2 separate regions of the Homo sapiens genome follow, and region 2 is linked to region 1. The links come from fine-mapping of genetic effects on gene expression. Tissue or cell type: whole blood. Region 1 holds a variant in brackets; the other region holds the start of a gene. All regions are shown on one strand. Distances are between the middles of the regions.

Evidence for each region. PIP is the estimated chance that this variant, and not a neighbour inherited with it, causes the effect.
Region 2: it holds the start of MST1, and the variant in region 1 is fine-mapped to the expression of MST1 in whole blood (TOPMed, PIP above 0.99).

Annotation. Positions count from the first base shown.
Region 1 is chr3:49,277,044-49,285,143 of GRCh38, reverse strand. C3orf62 (chromosome 3 open reading frame 62) reads left to right here and starts at 7,912. Exons shown (of 3, transcript NM_198562.3): 1 at 7,912-8,100. USP4 (ubiquitin specific peptidase 4) reads left to right here. Exons shown (of 22, transcript NM_003363.4): 17 at 225-295; 18 at 560-678; 19 at 1,008-1,157; 20 at 4,297-4,400; 21 at 6,242-6,330; 22 at 6,693-8,000. The coding sequence ends at 6,851. RefSeq lists a silencer at 7,889-8,088. The variant T/G (reference allele first, on the strand shown) is at 3,108.
Region 2 is chr3:49,684,720-49,692,803 of GRCh38, reverse strand. MST1 (macrophage stimulating 1) reads left to right here and starts at 3,330. Exons shown (of 18, transcript NM_020998.4): 1 at 3,330-4,206; 2 at 4,907-5,054; 3 at 5,136-5,248; 4 at 5,326-5,440; 5 at 5,519-5,655; 6 at 5,737-5,857; 7 at 6,002-6,120; 8 at 6,323-6,491; 9 at 6,612-6,742; 10 at 6,842-6,944; 11 at 7,072-7,208; 12 at 7,298-7,333; 13 at 7,422-7,542; 14 at 7,715-7,792; 1 more. The coding sequence starts at 4,113. It overlaps RNF123 (ring finger protein 123), which reads right to left and starts at 3,247. Exons shown (of 39, transcript NM_022064.5): 1 at 3,198-3,247; 2 at 1,557-1,674; 3 at 1,295-1,379. The coding sequence starts at 1,638. RefSeq lists enhancers at 3,417-3,976, 5,493-6,206, 6,207-6,920 and a silencer at 5,819-5,938.

The sequences.
Region 1 (8,100 bases):
TCGTAGCTTATCTGTATCACTGAGGAAGTCTTTGCCAAAGGCTTTTTGGGGCTGGGGGTCAGAAGGGCTGGCCCATTGCAGAGCATTGCTCTTGACACTGGCTGCTGATGGGGGAGAAGGTGTTGATGGTGTGGCCTGAGTGTGGTCCTTCTCACTCCTGTCACTTGGAGAGCCTTTCCTGTTGCTTGCCATTCCATAACAAGTGACATTTTGGTCCTCCTCAGCTCGATCTACACTGGCCATGGATTGGGACAGTGAAACTCGGAGACTTTACTATGATGAGCAAGAATCTGAGGTAGGTCCCTCGGGGTTCGTGGTCGGTGGTGTCTGCTGGTTTCTGCTCTGGATGTGGACTGCGATCACTTTCACCAGTTGGACAGCAATTTAGCAAGTTATATTTAAGACTGAGAAGGAAAAGCACTTCAAGATTTTGTCATTTTATATTCAGAGGCTCTAGAAAGTGTACTACATTCCAGGTGGGAGAGCCTCTGTAGGCCTTCATGTCTTAATGCAGTAAGATCTCTTTCTCCAGCAGAACTGAGTGCTTTGATTCCCATAGGCCTACGAGAAGCATGTGAGCATGTTGCAGCCTCAGAAGAAGAAGAAGACCACAGTGGCCCTGAGAGACTGCATCGAGCTCTTCACCACCATGGAGACCCTTGGGGAGCATGACCCCTGGTACGCAGCTCCTCACTGTCTGGGCAGAGGCCCCATGCACCCCAGGACTCAGATCTGCTAGGGCCATCTGTGCACATAAACCCCTTTGTATTTGGATGTGTCACTTCTTTATATAGCTAACCCTACAACATAATCCTCTGTGAGTTGAGGTTTCCAAGGAAAGCCGTCACCCCATTTTGGAAGACAGGTCCCTGGCCAGAAGCAGTAGTGTTGAGTGCTGACCGAGAGGATGGCAGCTATCAGGGGACTGCAGCTGTGCCTCCATGCATGAGTGCCCAGGTGGCACTGGCTGCCGGCTTGCCCTGCTAAGTGGAGGTTTCTCTTTTTAGGTACTGTCCCAACTGTAAGAAGCATCAACAGGCCACAAAAAAGTTTGACCTATGGTCCTTGCCCAAGATCCTGGTGGTCCACCTCAAACGTTTCTCCTACAACAGATACTGGAGGGATAAGCTCGACACAGTCGTAGAATTCCCAATCAGGTGGGTCATGGTGACTACAGTGTTAGGAACATTTAAAAACAGGCAGAAAATCTTGGCACTGATTGGCTGAGTGGTTTGCCACCAAAAACTTTTCTGAGTAAGGATGTGTGTTGCCGGGGTCTAGGAGGTCAGAGTTTAGCTGTAGTTACCCCTTCTGTCCCTATCCTCCCATCTTTGGGGAAGAGACTCTCCAGTGGAAGCATTTGCCCAGACACAGGCTGCTGCCAGTCACCCCTGCCACTGCTAGTTTCCCTCTCGAGTCACTTAGGCCACCTAACTGGCCTTCCTGTCCATCATCTGTCACAGGTAGCCTCACCTTAGCAGAGGCAGCACAACAGGGGACAAGGCAACCAAGAATAGCCTGTCAGGTAGAGTTGGGTTATTATTGGGGGCTGCAGGTGGGCTGCACACCTGCCATGATCCTGTCCCTGGGGTAGGGATTGGGACTGGCTGTCTACTCATATCCTCTCAAGCCCCACAGTACAGACTGTAACTAAGAACAGGAAAGTAAGTTAACAGATAGATGTTCCCTGGCTGGGCACAGTGGCTCACATATCATCAATTTGGGAGGCCAAGGTGGGAGGATCACTTGAGCCTAGGAGTTCAAAACCAGCCTGGACAACATAGAGAGACTTCCTCTCTACAAAAAATAAAAAATATATTTAAAAAAATAGGCTGGGCACGGTGGCTCATGCTTGTAATCCCAGCACTTTGGGAGGCCAAGGTGGGCAGATCACAAGGTCTGGAGATCGAGACCATCCTGGCCAACATGGTGAAACCCCATCTCTACTAAAAATGCAAAAGTTAGCTGGATGTGGTGGCGCACACCTGTGGTCCCAGCTACTCAGGAGGCTGAGGCAGGAAAATCGCCTGAACCTAGGAGGCAAAAGTTGCAGTGAGCCAAGATTGCACCACTGCACTCCAGCCTGGTGACAGAGCGAGACTCTATCTCAAAAAAAAAAAAAAAAAAAAAAAAAAGAGGCCGGCACAGTGGCTCACACCTGTAATCCCAGCACTGTGGGAGGCCAAGGTGGGTGGATCACTTGAGATCAGGAGCCGGAGAGTAGCCTGGCCAACATGGTGAAATCCTGTCTCCAGTAAAACTACAAAAATTAGCTGGATGTGGTGGTGCACGCCTGTAATCCCAGCTACTAGGGAGGCTGAGGCAGGAGAATTGCTTGAACCCACTAGGCGGAGGTTGCAGTGAGCCAAGATTGTGCCACTGCACTCCAGCCTCAGCAACAGAGCAAGCCCCTGTTTCCAAAAAAAGAAAAAAAAAAGGGAGTTGCCCACAAAATGTAGATTTTAAAATGCTTTCTGGGGGAAAGAATAGATACATGAAGTATAGCATGTCAGCAGGAGACGCCAGGTGATGGATAATAAGTATTTGTTGTAAAAATTCTTTATCTTGGCTGGGCGCAGTGGCTCACACCTGTAATCCCAGCACTTTGGGAGGCTGAGGTGGGCAAATTACGAGGTCAGGAGTTTGAGACCAGCCTGACCAACATGGTGAAACCCCATCTCTACTAAAAGTACAAAACAAAATTAGCTAGGCATGGTGGCGCATGCCTGTAATCCCTGCTACTTGGGAGGCTGAGGCAGGAGAATCACTTGAACCCAAGAGGCAGAGGTTGCAGTGAGTCAAGATCGCGCCACTGCACTCCAGCCCGGACGACACAGCGAGACTCCGTCTCAAAAAAAAAAAAATTCTTTATCTTTTCTGTGTGTTTGAAAATTTTTAAATAAAATATTGGAGGAAGAAAGCTTTCTGGGGCCTGTTTTGGTTGAGTTTAAATTATTATGGCACCAACTGTAATTCTGTTAAGAACAGCCATTTCTGCATACTTGCTGAAGCCCTCTGTGTGTATCTCTAGACCCTCATCACCATTTTGTCTGGTGCTGGAGTTACCCAGAAAGGTTCTCCCATTTTCTTTTGTTGTTGTTGTTGTT[T/G]TTTTTGTTTTGTTTTTGTTTTTTTTTGAGACCGTGTCTCACTCTGTCGCCAGGCCAGAGTGCAGTGGTGCGATCTCGGCTCACTACAACCTCTGCCTCCTGGGTTCAAGCAATTCTCCTGCCTCAGCCTCCTGAGTAGCTGGGACTACAGGCGCCTGCCACCATACCCAGCTAATTTTTGTATTTTTAGTAGAGACGGGGTTTTACCATGTTGGCCAGGATGGTCTCAAACTCCTGACCTCATGATCCACCCACCTTGGCCTCCCAAAGTGCTGGGATTACAGGCATGAGCCACTGTGCCCGGCCTTTTTTTTTTTTTTTTGAGACGGAGTTACGCTCTTGTTGCCCAGGCTGAAGTGCAATGGCACGATCTCGGCTCACTGCAAACTCTGCCTCCCAGGATCAATCGATTCTCCTACCTCAGCCTCCCAAGTAGCTAGGATTACAGGTGTGTGCCACCATGCCCGGCTAATTTGTGTGTGTGTGTATATATAAATGTATATATGTGTGTGTGTGTGTGTGTGTGTGTGTGTGTGTGTGTGTGTATATATATATATATACACATACTTTTTTTCTTTTTTGAGACGGAGTCTCGCTCTGTTGCCCAGGCTGGACTGCAGTAGTGCGATCTTGGCTCACTGCAAGCTCCACCTCCCGGGTTCACGCCATTCTCCTGCCTCAGCCTCCCGAGTAGCTGGGACTACAGGCGCCCACCACCACGCCCAGCTAATTTTTGTATTTTTTAGTAGAGACAGGGTTTCACCGTGTTAGCCAGGATGGTCTCAATCTTCTGATCTCGTGATCCGCCTGCCTTGGCCTCCGAAAGTGCTGGGATTACAGGTGTGAGCCACCGTGCGCGGCCTAATTTTTGTATTTTTAGCAGAGACGGGATTTCACCATGTTGGTCGGGCTCGTCTCGAACTCCTGATCTCAGGTGATCCACCTGCCTTGGCCCCCCAAAGTGCTGGGATTACAGGCATGAGCCACCACACCCAGCCCCATTTTCTAGCCTGAATATGTCAGTGGTCAGAACATGGATCCTAGAGTCCCTTCCATCTTGGTCTCTCTCGAATAGTTTGAGTGCCTCCCTGTGTTCTGCCCTGTTGCATAACAGAGGTTGCTGGGTTACTCTTAACTACTTTGTTTGGGTTTAACATATTCAATAACTATTTTTGTGTTTTGTGCTCAGAGGGCTGAACATGTCCGAGTTTGTCTGTAACCTGTCAGCAAGGCCTTATGTGTACGACCTCATTGCCGTGTCCAATCATTATGGAGCCATGGGGGTTGGCCACTGTAAGTATTGACATCTGCTTCCTTCTGAGATGTTGAAATGTGCTCGGCCATCATCTCTCACCAGTGGACCAGGCATTGCCCTAAATGCTTTGCTTATGCAGTTTCACAGGCTTCATGCTGCACGCTTTCTTCATACTGATTCCCCTCTCTGTTTTTTTTTAATTCTTTTTTTTTTTTTTTTTTTGAGACGGAGTCTCGTTATGTCACCCAGGCTAGAACACAGTGGCGCAATCTCACTCACTGCAAGCTCTGCCTCCCAGGTTCACGCCATTCTCCTGCCTCAGCCTCCTGAGTAGCTGGGACTACAGGCGCCCGCCACCACGCCTGGCTAATTTTTTGTATTTTTAGTAGAGACGGGGTTTCACCATGTTAGCCAGGATGGTCTCGATCTCCTGACCTCGTGATCCGCCCGCCTCGGCCTCCCAAAGTGCTGGGATTACAGGTGTGAGGCACTGTGCCTGGCTGGTTTGCTCTTTTTTTGAGACAGATTCTCACTCTGTCACCCAGGCTGGAAAGCAGTGGCGCAGTCTCGGCTCACTTGCAACCTCCACCTCCCGGGTTCAAGCGATTCTCGTGCCTCAGCCTGCCGAGTAGCTGGGATTACAGGTGTGCGCCACCACACCTGGCTAATTTTTGTATTTTTAGTAGAGACAGGGTTTTGGCATGTTGCCCAGGCTGGTCTTGAACTCCTGGGCTCAAGCGAACCACCCTGCCTTGGCCTCCCAAAGTGTTGGGATCACAGGTGTGAGTCACCGTGCCCTGCCTGTGTTCATTTTTATTTGCTAATTTTTGCACACAAACATACCATTTGGGCAAGTTTCTCATCCTCAGTTTTCTCATCCATGAGGTTAGGCTGGTTGTGTGAGGGTCCACATTGGGCCTACAGTTGGAACTTCAAAATTGAAAGCCACCGTTGCTGCTATTGTGTCAAGCACAGACTGTGTGAACTGGCCTTGGGCACCTTCTCTGTTGCCCTTTCCCATGATCCTCACCACCACTTTGTGCAGTCAATGCTATAGTGAGGAAACTGAGGCTGAAGTGTTAAACACCTTACCTAAAACCACACAGTAAGTTGACACTGGATATCAGATCTCCATTGGGTTCTGTAGTTTCTGAGAGTCTGGGTGGAGCAGGAACTGGGCTGGGATTGCTGTAATAAACACATCCTGCTTGGGAATAGTGTAAAGTCAAGACAAGAAGCATTGCCTCTGGGAAATGCTTGAATCATTGTGGGAAACTGTTACCTAACCACAGACTCTGGACTCCTAGTTTTAGAGAAAGATAAATTTTTTTTTTTTTGGATATGGAGACTAAGGTATGTTGTTCACATCCCAGCTCTGCAAACCCAAACACCCAATGTTCCTCTAACTGGGATTATTCTGTAGGCTCCCGAGGCACTAAGCATTCTGTTGATGTTAGTAGCCACCTGCCTAGATGCAATGGGGGAGACTGACTTGGCATGTCCTTGTGAGAGCTATTGTTTTGCTTAAATCTTAGAAGTTTCAGCTCCTTTTATGGGTTCCCTGGTTTTGGATTATTGCACATAGCCATCCTGAAGATTGGCACTGAATAGCTCTGTTTTTTCTATTAGTTTCCCAAAATTATAGTTTAAAATCTTGGTCCCTGACAGCTCCATTTTTAGCCTTTTGATCCTTTTTGAGAAGGAACAGATTAGAAAAGAAGGTGAGTTGTTTTTTGGTTGTTAAGACACACACTGTAAACTTTTTTAATTTCAGGGGTTTTGTTTTGGGGATTTTTGTGTTTATTTAGTGCAAGCCTAATAAGCTAGCCAGATTAATTCTCTGGAGACCGCTAGAGTATTTTCTTTGTTGACTTGGCAGACACTGCATATGCGAAGAACAAACTGAATGGTAAATGGTATTACTTTGATGATAGCAACGTGTCCCTGGCCTCTGAGGATCAGATAGTGGTGAGTAGGCCATGATATGTGGTTCTTCCTCATGTCGTTATGGATTAAAGCTGGGAAGAGCCTCTATCAGGCTAGTTGGTTATTTCATCATCCTGATGTGATAGTGGGAGCTAGGTGTGACAGAGCTGGCTGGCATTCCTTCAGGGACCTTCATAAATGAGAAGCTCAGCTCTCCTCAGAGTTCTCTGCACAAGGCTCCTTCCATTTCCTGCTGCCTGGCAGGGGCAGCCATCCTCAGGTGGAAGGGTCTCCTCTGTGTGGATATGGCAGATCCTTGAGGGTTTTGGACAGCTAGAGAAAAGCTGGGGAAAATGGGTGATTTTTCCAAGCACTGAATGGTCTTTCCCCCTCTTGTATTTCAGACTAAAGCAGCTTATGTGCTATTTTACCAACGTCGAGATGATGAATTTTATAAGACACCTTCACTTAGCAGTTCTGGTTCCTCTGATGGAGGGACACGACCAAGCAGCTCTCAGCAGGGCTTTGGGGATGATGAGGCTTGCAGCATGGACACCAACTAATGCTGACTCCACGATCCTGCCACCCTGTAGCGCCAGTGTAATCCCCCAGGAGAACATCTTTGACACTCTGCAGACTGCTAGTGTTCTGTCTAAAAACCAGACAAGGAAATACCCTTCTTTTATGAGCAGAAGGAAACAAAAAAAAAAAAAGAAGACCGTTTACCTAGAAGAAGCTATGTCAAGAGGCTGAATTATTTTTATTTTTAAACAGGTGGTGAGAAATTTCTGTGAAACCTGTGAAGCTGAAAAGGGGGTGGGATGGGGGTACTCAATGGAGTATGTCTGATGGATCCCGAAGAATGGAGAGGAACACAGGCGCTGAGTATGGAGCAGCCTGGAGACCCACCCCACCTGCAGGGCTGCCCTGAGCGCCTGGATTTCTGGTTCTGATGCCAATACTAGTCACCCCAAGTAGTCTGCTCACAGTAACCCAAACCTCAAGTAAACTCCCCTTTCCCTCGCTATGTGCACTGATATGGGTTTATAATTTTCTGAAAGTTACCCACTGAAGCCCATTTCTCCGTTGAGTCATCTTGTAATTTCCAGCTTTCTCCCCGCTAAGGAAGATATCTAGTGTTGGGGATCCTGGCCCCTCAACCTCCTGTGGAACCCAGCAGTTCTGTTATATCCCCTGCTACCCTAGATGAATTAAGACGGTTAAATACTGTGTGGAACTTTTATTAGATAACACACTTTTTATTAGATAACGCTTAAAGGAAGTCAGTACATAAAACTGCCCGGTGCTGTGTCCCGTCTAGTTGTTTCCATGTTGGCTTGAGAACAGAAATCTTTGTGGGAGTTAGCCGGGAAAGGGCTCCAGTTCATGGCGATTTAGGGTAGTAATACATTTTGGTGTTACCCAGATGCTTTCTAGAACGGGTTCTTTCCTCATCCCTGCCAAGACTCTTCCCGGGGCCCCCATTCGAAAGCCCCGTCCCCACTCCCACCGCGGGGCCAGCCGCTGCGTGTGGGCAAGGCCTTAAGGAACCGGACGTATGGGTCCGGGATTTTTTGTCTGACCTTCAACCTAATCCGTGGGGGTTTGGGGCCTGCGCGGGGCACGCGCATGCGATGACCGTTGGATGGGTCGGCGTCACTGCGCTGCGGGTGAGGACAAGGACGTGGCTGCCGACTCGCCAAAGGGGGGGTGCCGGTAGGGCCAGCGGCCTGGGAGCCGCGGTGGGGCGGGAGGCAGCGGCGGGGCGGGCCAGGAAGCTGTGGGAAGTGGGGCGGGGCGTCTTTGGGGCTT
Region 2 (8,084 bases), 410 kb before region 1:
ATCCTGTAATATGCAACAACATGGATGGAACTGGAGGTCATTATGTTAAATGAAATAAGCCAGGCAGAAAAAGACAAACATTGCATGTTATCACTTATTTGTGACAGCTAAAAATTAAAACAATTGAACTCATAGAGGCAAAGTACTGGATGGTTACCAGAGGCTTGGAAGGGTAGTATAGGGCTTGTGGGGAGATGGGGATGGCTAATGCGTACAAAAAAATTGAATTAATGAGACCTATCTGGTAGCAGAACAGAGTGACTATAGTAAATAATAATTGTACATTTAAAAATAACTAAAAGAGTATAACTAGATTGTTTATAAGACAAAAGATAAATGCTTGAGGGGATGGATACCCCATTTACCATGATGTGATTATTACGCATTGCATGCCTGTATCAAAGTATCTCATGTACCCTATAAATATATATACCTACTACATACCCACAAAAATTAAAAATTAAAAATGTAACACAAAGAAAGAAACAGAAAAGAATCACATTTGAATAGTCATGTTAAAATAACAAGATAGCAGGTGCTTTTCCTTCTTTTTTTAGAGACAGGGTCTTGCTCTGTCACCCAGGCTACAGTGCAGTGGCATGCAGAGGCCAACTCACTGCAGCCTCAACCTCCTAGGCTCAAGTGATCCTCCCACATCAGCCTCCCTAACAGCTGGGACTACAGGTGCACACCACCATGCCCAGGTAATTTCTGTATTTTATTGTAGAGATGGGGTCTTGCCATGTTGCTCAGGCTGGTCTTGAACTCCTGGACTCAAGCAATCTACCCACCTTGGCCTCCCAAAGTGCTGGGATTACAGGTGTGAACCACTGTGCCTGGCCCTCTAAGTTTCTGCTAAAATGTACTTGTAACTTTTATACTGACTACACTTAAAAGTATTAAACTTGTAAAGAAAAGGCCCTGGAGGAGTTTGTTCTTTACAAGGTCAGTCAGAAGCTACAAGGGGCCAGGCTGGGGCCAAGGTGAGGGCAGGTACATGCAGGGGCAGATGCTGGGTATGGAGTAGGTGCCAGGTGCTAGCTGGGCATGAATGTGCACCCGCTCCCTGACCTCTGCTCCCTGACTCTCAGAAGGAACTAGCACTGCCTGGAGACAGGAAGAAGCAGAGTACGGAAGGCAGACTCTCTGGCCAGAGATCTCGCAGCCAGGAGCACAGTGAGAACAGAGCCTAAGCCTATCTGTCCAGAGCCCAGGCTCCCTTTCCCTACAACTGCAGCCTCCTTATTCTGGTCTGGCCCAGCAGAGTGAGGAGGGGCCACCCACCCAGCCATACCTGCTGGTGGCTGCTGGGGGTGCATGTTCAGAAGAGGAAAAGATGCGGTTCAGGTAGTCATTCAGCAGCTTCTCCTGCACAATGCCTGAGCCACAAGTCAGAAGGGAGAAAAGGGCCACATGATCAGTGCAGCTCCTGGCCCCTGCTGGCCCCAGAGACTTCTGGTCCTAGGCCAGCCACAGGTGCAGCAAGGCCTGAGGCCTTTGTCCCTTCCTTCTCCTCCCAACAAGAGGAGCCTCCTTCCTTCCCTGCCAGCTCTTACCTGTGACCCTGGATTTCTCAGCATCTGAGGTCAGCCTATAGCTCTTGCGGGAGAAAGACATGCCGGCCCCCTTGGATGCCATCCTTCATCTCTCATGGGCAGCCAGTGGTCCTGGGGGCTGAGCCAGACACAGAGCCTGTCTACTCAGGGCCAGCCAGGGGCCCCCACACCTGACCTCAGTCCTGCCATGGCAGGAAGGCTTGGGAGCAGGTGAGGCCAGGGGCATGCACACTAACACATAGGGCAGGGGAATGCAGGGGCTCCCAGCTTCCTACACAGGGAGGGTAGCCAGGGTCTAGGCCCATGTAACAGGGACCACTTCTTGTTCTCCAGTGTCCCTGTGCCCAGCACAGGGCTGGGCAGAGAGCAGGTACTAGATATATTTTTGCCGAACCATAACAAAATGTCTCAGCTCTGTGGAAATCAGACCAAAATGTCCAAAGTGAGGTGTCCTAGGGGCAGAGCCCCTGTATCCATCTCAGTTGTAAGCCATACTGAGTCCAGCTCACAACCAGAAGCGACAATCCTACACATTCCCCCAAGTGCAGACCACCACTGGTCTGGTCATCTCTAGCCATAAGTCCCACTTACTCCCCACAAGGCTGGAGCCTCTTTCCTCAGCCCTGGGTTCCTCCCTTCTTTTATCCATGGTCCTGATAGTTTCACCATTCCCACTCACACATGTGGCCTCCCACCTCATCCAAGCACCACCCTTGCCCAGCCCTCATGGCAAACTCCATTGGTCCTCCTAGTGCATCTATCCCTCACATCATGTTGCTGCTGCAGCTGCTCCAGAACCTGCACTGAGTCCCTGGTGCTGGCCTCACTGATGTGTAGCGGTGCTGTCCAACACAGCAGCCGTCATCCACATGAGGTTACTTAAATTTAAAGTTTTAAAAATTAACAATTCGATTTCTCAGTTGCCTTAGCCACATTTCAAGAGTTCAATGACCACATGTGGCTAATGGTTACTCTGTTGGACAGCACAAAGGTAGAACGTTCCCACCATCATATAAAGTTCTATTAGACAGCGCAGGTCTAGAGTTTCGCTCTGCAGCACTGCCTTAGCCAGCACTCCCTACTCTGCAGTTCAGTCTCTTATCTCACCCCAAACAGACCCTCTACTCCCGCCACAAACCCTTGTGGGTCTGCACCACGCCTGCTCCTCGGGAAGGTGATTTTCCCGACCTCGGGCCCTCGGTGGGCGTCCATGATCGGTGCCCCTTCACTACCAGAGTAGTTGAAGATCTGATTAAACTCAGTCATTCATTTGATGAGCAGACCTTCCAGACACCCGGAGTGGGCTCCGGGAGTCAGTTGCTGAGGACCCAGGTGAGAGGCGGACCTTGTCCCCGCCCGGGGACTCCCTGTCACGGCTATCCCGTCCAACCCCGCCGGGGTATCCGGACTCAGAACTGAACCTACTCCGTCTGGGAGCCCAAGGACGGCGAGGGCGGCGCATGGCTCCCCCAAGTCGCCCCCGCCTGGCCCCAAGCTCCACAGGACCTGCCAGACCAGCTTCCGCTCGGAGTTTCGCACCCAGATCCCTGCGCTGCAGGTGCCCTCGCACTGGACTAGCCCGGACCGCGAAGGGAATAGCCGGAACCCGCCAGGCTCAGAGCCCTGCCGCCCCTCACTCACCCGGAGCCTCGGCCGCAGCGACCCGGCTCACAACATCCGCCCAACCTCTTGGCTACGGCGTCCGTTCAGGGCCAAATCACGCGCACGCTTGCGCGCTGAGCCTCCAGCCGCGCACGCGCACTGGCCCGCGCCCAGCCTCCGCTAGGGGACCCCCTCCATGGCTTCCCACCGGGTTGTTCCAGGCCTCAGCTTCGCCGAAAGGCCTCACCACCTCCGACCTCCGCCTGCTCTGGGGATGCTCCCAGCCCTGCTGCGGCAGAACGCGACATGCTAACCGGAATCCCTAGGCCGCCTGTCTCCTACCCATACTTAGAGGCCCCGCTCAGACGGTCCTTAAAACGTCTGAAAGGCCGTTCCTGCCAGAGTCCCTGCTACCTGTTACCTCCACCCCTATTTAGTCCTAGTGGACAGCCTCGCTCACCTTCCCTGGGATGACACTTCTGGCGGCTGAGATGAGCGAGCCTCTCTGGGCTCTGCCGCCGGGTGTGGGCTGACCTGCCTACAGCTGGGGCCTGATAAGGCAGCAGCAAAAGGGTGGAGGGGAGGCAGTGTTGAAGCTGGGGCAAGTAATTTTCCCCAATTTACAGGGAAAAACCGAAATTCAGAAAAGTTTAATGTCACCCAGGGGCTGGAGCCCAGACCTCTGGCAGCTCTCACTTTCACAATGCCCTTGGGCTGACTAGGCTGCAGAGGGGTTTCACCCCAACCCCAGGGCACCTCAAGTGTCCCCACCAAACCTTCCTAACACCTGTCCACTAAGCTGTACTAGGCCCTTGCAACTGACCTATGGGACCTGAGGCCTGGCCCCTCATGGCTCCTGTCACCAGGTCTCAGGTCAGGGTCCAGCAGGCCCTGAGCTGACGTGTGGAGCCAGAGCCACCCAATCCCGTAGGGACAGGTTTCACAACTTCCCGGATGGGGCTGTGGTGGGTCACAGTGCAGCCTCCAGCCAGAAGGATGGGGTGGCTCCCACTCCTGCTGCTTCTGACTCAATGCTTAGGGGTCCCTGGTAAGTGCCCCCAACCCTGATCCCCATCTGCCTTCAGGAGGGGGTTGGCCCCATTCTCCTATTCTAGGATGAGAAAAAAGTCGGGGAGCCAGAGGCTCAGTGGGCATGGGGCAGTGACCTTGCCCTCTTGAGCACAGCTGGGAAGCCCTAGGAACACATAGACATTGCCCACTTAGGCCTCTATTAGCACGTCTGCTCTAGCACTGAAGCAGTGTCAGGACCACACAGATGCACGCACACAGCAGGCAGTGACCCCTCCTGAGCCTGATCTACCCCTCTAACCTAGCATATGCCTTTGTGCAGGTGAGAGCCCAGATTTGGAGTCTGAATGCCTAGCCAGGGCCCCTGGCTGGGTAATGTGATGGCTCTGAGCCTTAGCATTCTCATTTGAGAGATGAGGTGGGGCAAGCTTCATCACCCACTGCTCTCACAGAGCGTATGTGTTAGATCTGAGCCCGGTGCCTGGGCCACTAAACAGAGGCACCGGTGATAACTACCAAGTCTGGGCCTGCTTCCCAGGGGAAATTTTTTTCACAAGTATCTGTGCAGGGGGCTAGACTGGCCCTTGAAAGTGCATACAGGGTCCATCCCAGAAGCCTTGTAGCTTTGATCCCCTGAATGAACAAAGTGTGGACATGCCAATACACATTACTGACATGTATGCCCACCTGACCTGCACCCACTCATGCCTACTCTGCAGGGCAGCGCTCGCCATTGAATGACTTCCAAGTGCTCCGGGGCACAGAGCTACAGCACCTGCTACATGCGGTGGTGCCCGGGCCTTGGCAGGAGGATGTGGCAGATGCTGAAGAGTGTGCTGGTCGCTGTGGGCCCTTAATGGACTGCCGGTGAGTGGCCACTGGGCCTAGATAAGACTGGGGGCAGGGAAGCCTGGGCTGTGGCGTTACCCTGTGCCTTCTTCTCTCCAGGGCCTTCCACTACAACGTGAGCAGCCATGGTTGCCAACTGCTGCCATGGACTCAACACTCGCCCCACACGAGGCTGCGGCGTTCTGGGCGCTGTGACCTCTTCCAGAAGAAAGGCAAGTGGGGGTGGAGAGGGGCAGGGTGGGAGACAGGGGACCTCAGCCCAAGTTGATCTTCTGTCTCTTGCTCCCAGACTACGTACGGACCTGCATCATGAACAATGGGGTTGGGTACCGGGGCACCATGGCCACGACCGTGGGTGGCCTGCCCTGCCAGGCTTGGAGCCACAAGTTCCCAAATGATCACAAGTGAGACAAACACCTTCCCTCCGTCCCGGCCTGGGGCCTTCCCCCAGCACACACTATAGTGATGCTCTGGGCCCTCAGGTACACGCCCACTCTCCGGAATGGCCTGGAAGAGAACTTCTGCCGTAACCCTGATGGCGACCCCGGAGGTCCTTGGTGCTACACAACAGACCCTGCTGTGCGCTTCCAGAGCTGCGGCATCAAATCCTGCCGGGAGGGTAAGCGGCGCCGGGTCAAGCTGGGAGAGTGGAGGGACAAGCCCACGTCCATCCACGAACCCACTGGCTCTTTGTCTCCAGCCGCGTGTGTCTGGTGCAATGGCGAGGAATACCGCGGCGCGGTAGACCGCACGGAGTCAGGGCGCGAGTGCCAGCGCTGGGATCTTCAGCACCCGCACCAGCACCCCTTCGAGCCGGGCAAGTACGCGTAGGCGGTATCGGCGTCCTGGGGGCCGGGCTAGGGAAGGTCCAGGACTCCAGGGGCAGGGCTCCGTGTAGGGCAATTGGGCGGGGCCAGATAAGCCAGAGTCCCAGGGTCTTGTTCACGCCCCATTACCGCCCCCAGGTTCCTCGACCAAGGTCTGGACGACAACTATTGCCGGAATCCTGACGGCTCCGAGCGGCCATGGTGCTACACTACGGATCCGCAGATCGAGCGAGAGTTCTGTGACCTCCCCCGCTGCGGTAGGCGGCGGGGACCAGGCCTGGGAGGGTACCTGGGAACCTTGGGGAGGGGCGTGGCTTGGCCGGGGAGGTAAGAGGGGCTGGGCGTGACCTGAGAGCATACCCCGTGGAGTACCGTACACCTGGGAAAGGCGGGTTTGGTCCCAGCCCCAGAGGGATCTCAGCTCTCGCTCGGGGCCCGACCTATCTCGGTCCATCTAAGGGTCCGAGGCACAGCCCCGCCAAGAGGCCACAACTGTCAGCTGCTTCCGCGGGAAGGGTGAGGGCTACCGGGGCACAGCCAATACCACCACTGCGGGCGTACCTTGCCAGCGTTGGGACGCGCAAATCCCGCATCAGCACCGATTTACGCCAGAAAAATACGCGTGCAAGTGAGGTGGGGGGGGGGGGCGGGCGTTGGGACGTGCTGCTGCGGGTGAGACGGGAGGAAGGTAGTCACGGGCTCAAGGCTGGAGGCTGGCGGGCTAGGGCTGAGTGGAGCGCCTGCTTAGAGACCTTCGGGAGAACTTCTGCCGGAACCCCGACGGCTCAGAGGCGCCCTGGTGCTTCACACTGCGGCCCGGCATGCGCGCGGCCTTTTGCTACCAGATCCGGCGTTGTACAGACGACGTGCGGCCCCAGGGTGAGGCCCAAGCTTGGGGGCTACAGAGCCGGGCTGGAAGCCTGGAACCGGAGGGCCGGGGCGAGGTCTCGGCCTGATGGCTGCCCGCACCCGCCACAGACTGCTACCACGGCGCAGGGGAGCAGTACCGCGGCACGGTCAGCAAGACCCGCAAGGGTGTCCAGTGCCAGCGCTGGTCCGCTGAGACGCCGCACAAGCCGCAGTGAGTCCCTGGTGCTCCCGGCCCCGCCAGGGCCCTAACCCTGGGGCGGCATGCTTTGGTGTCTGGGACCAGAGCCTGGAAATGGTTGAGACTACCCTGCCACGATTTTGCTCCCGCTTCCGCCTAGGTTCACGTTTACCTCCGAACCGCATGCACAACTGGAGGAGAACTTCTGCCGGAACCCAGATGGGGATAGCCATGGGCCCTGGTGCTACACGATGGACCCAAGGACCCCATTCGACTACTGTGCCCTGCGACGCTGCGGTGAGCACTAGTGACGCTTCCCCCATGACCCTGCCTCAGCCCCCACCCAAAGGCTGGCTCCCTTAACCCCAGTGAACTTTGTCTTTCAGCTGATGACCAGCCGCCATCAATCCTGGACCCCCCAGGTTAGGAGTTGGGCCAGTTATGGGTCAGGCCCTTTAGCCCACGACATCCACACAGTCTGGGTTTCATCCAGCCCACCCCATCCTACAGACCAGGTGCAGTTTGAGAAGTGTGGCAAGAGGGTGGATCGGCTGGATCAGCGGCGTTCCAAGCTGCGCGTGGTTGGGGGCCATCCGGGCAACTCACCCTGGACAGTCAGCTTGCGGAATCGGTGAGGCACAACTGCCTGTCTCCCACAGAGAGGAGCTGAGGTTGTGTCCTCTGTGGTTATCCCACTGGGGGCTGGGAATCTATCCCTGCCCCCAGAGGTCCTAGCCAGAAGATGGCAGGTCTAGCATCTGTCCCAGGAGTCTGTTACCTGTCCTAATTCCCCACTCCTCTAGGCAGGGCCAGCATTTCTGCGGGGGGTCTCTAGTGAAGGAGCAGTGGATACTGACTGCCCGGCAGTGCTTCTCCTCCTGGTGAGCCTCCCTTGTGTTTGGGGACCCAGTCTCATCCCACCTTCCCCCTTCCCCAGGCAAGCTAACAAGTGAGCCTTGGGGCAATGGACTGAGAGTCACAAATGACCTAGCAGAGCTTCTCTCCCAGCCATATGCCTCTCACGGGCTATGAGGTATGGTTGGGCACCCTGTTCCAGAACCCACAGCATGGAGAGCCAAGCCTACAGCGGGTCCCAGTAGCCAAGATGGTGTGTGGGCCCTCAGGCTCCCAGCTTGTCCTGCTCAAGCTGGAGAGGTATGTGGACAACCTGGG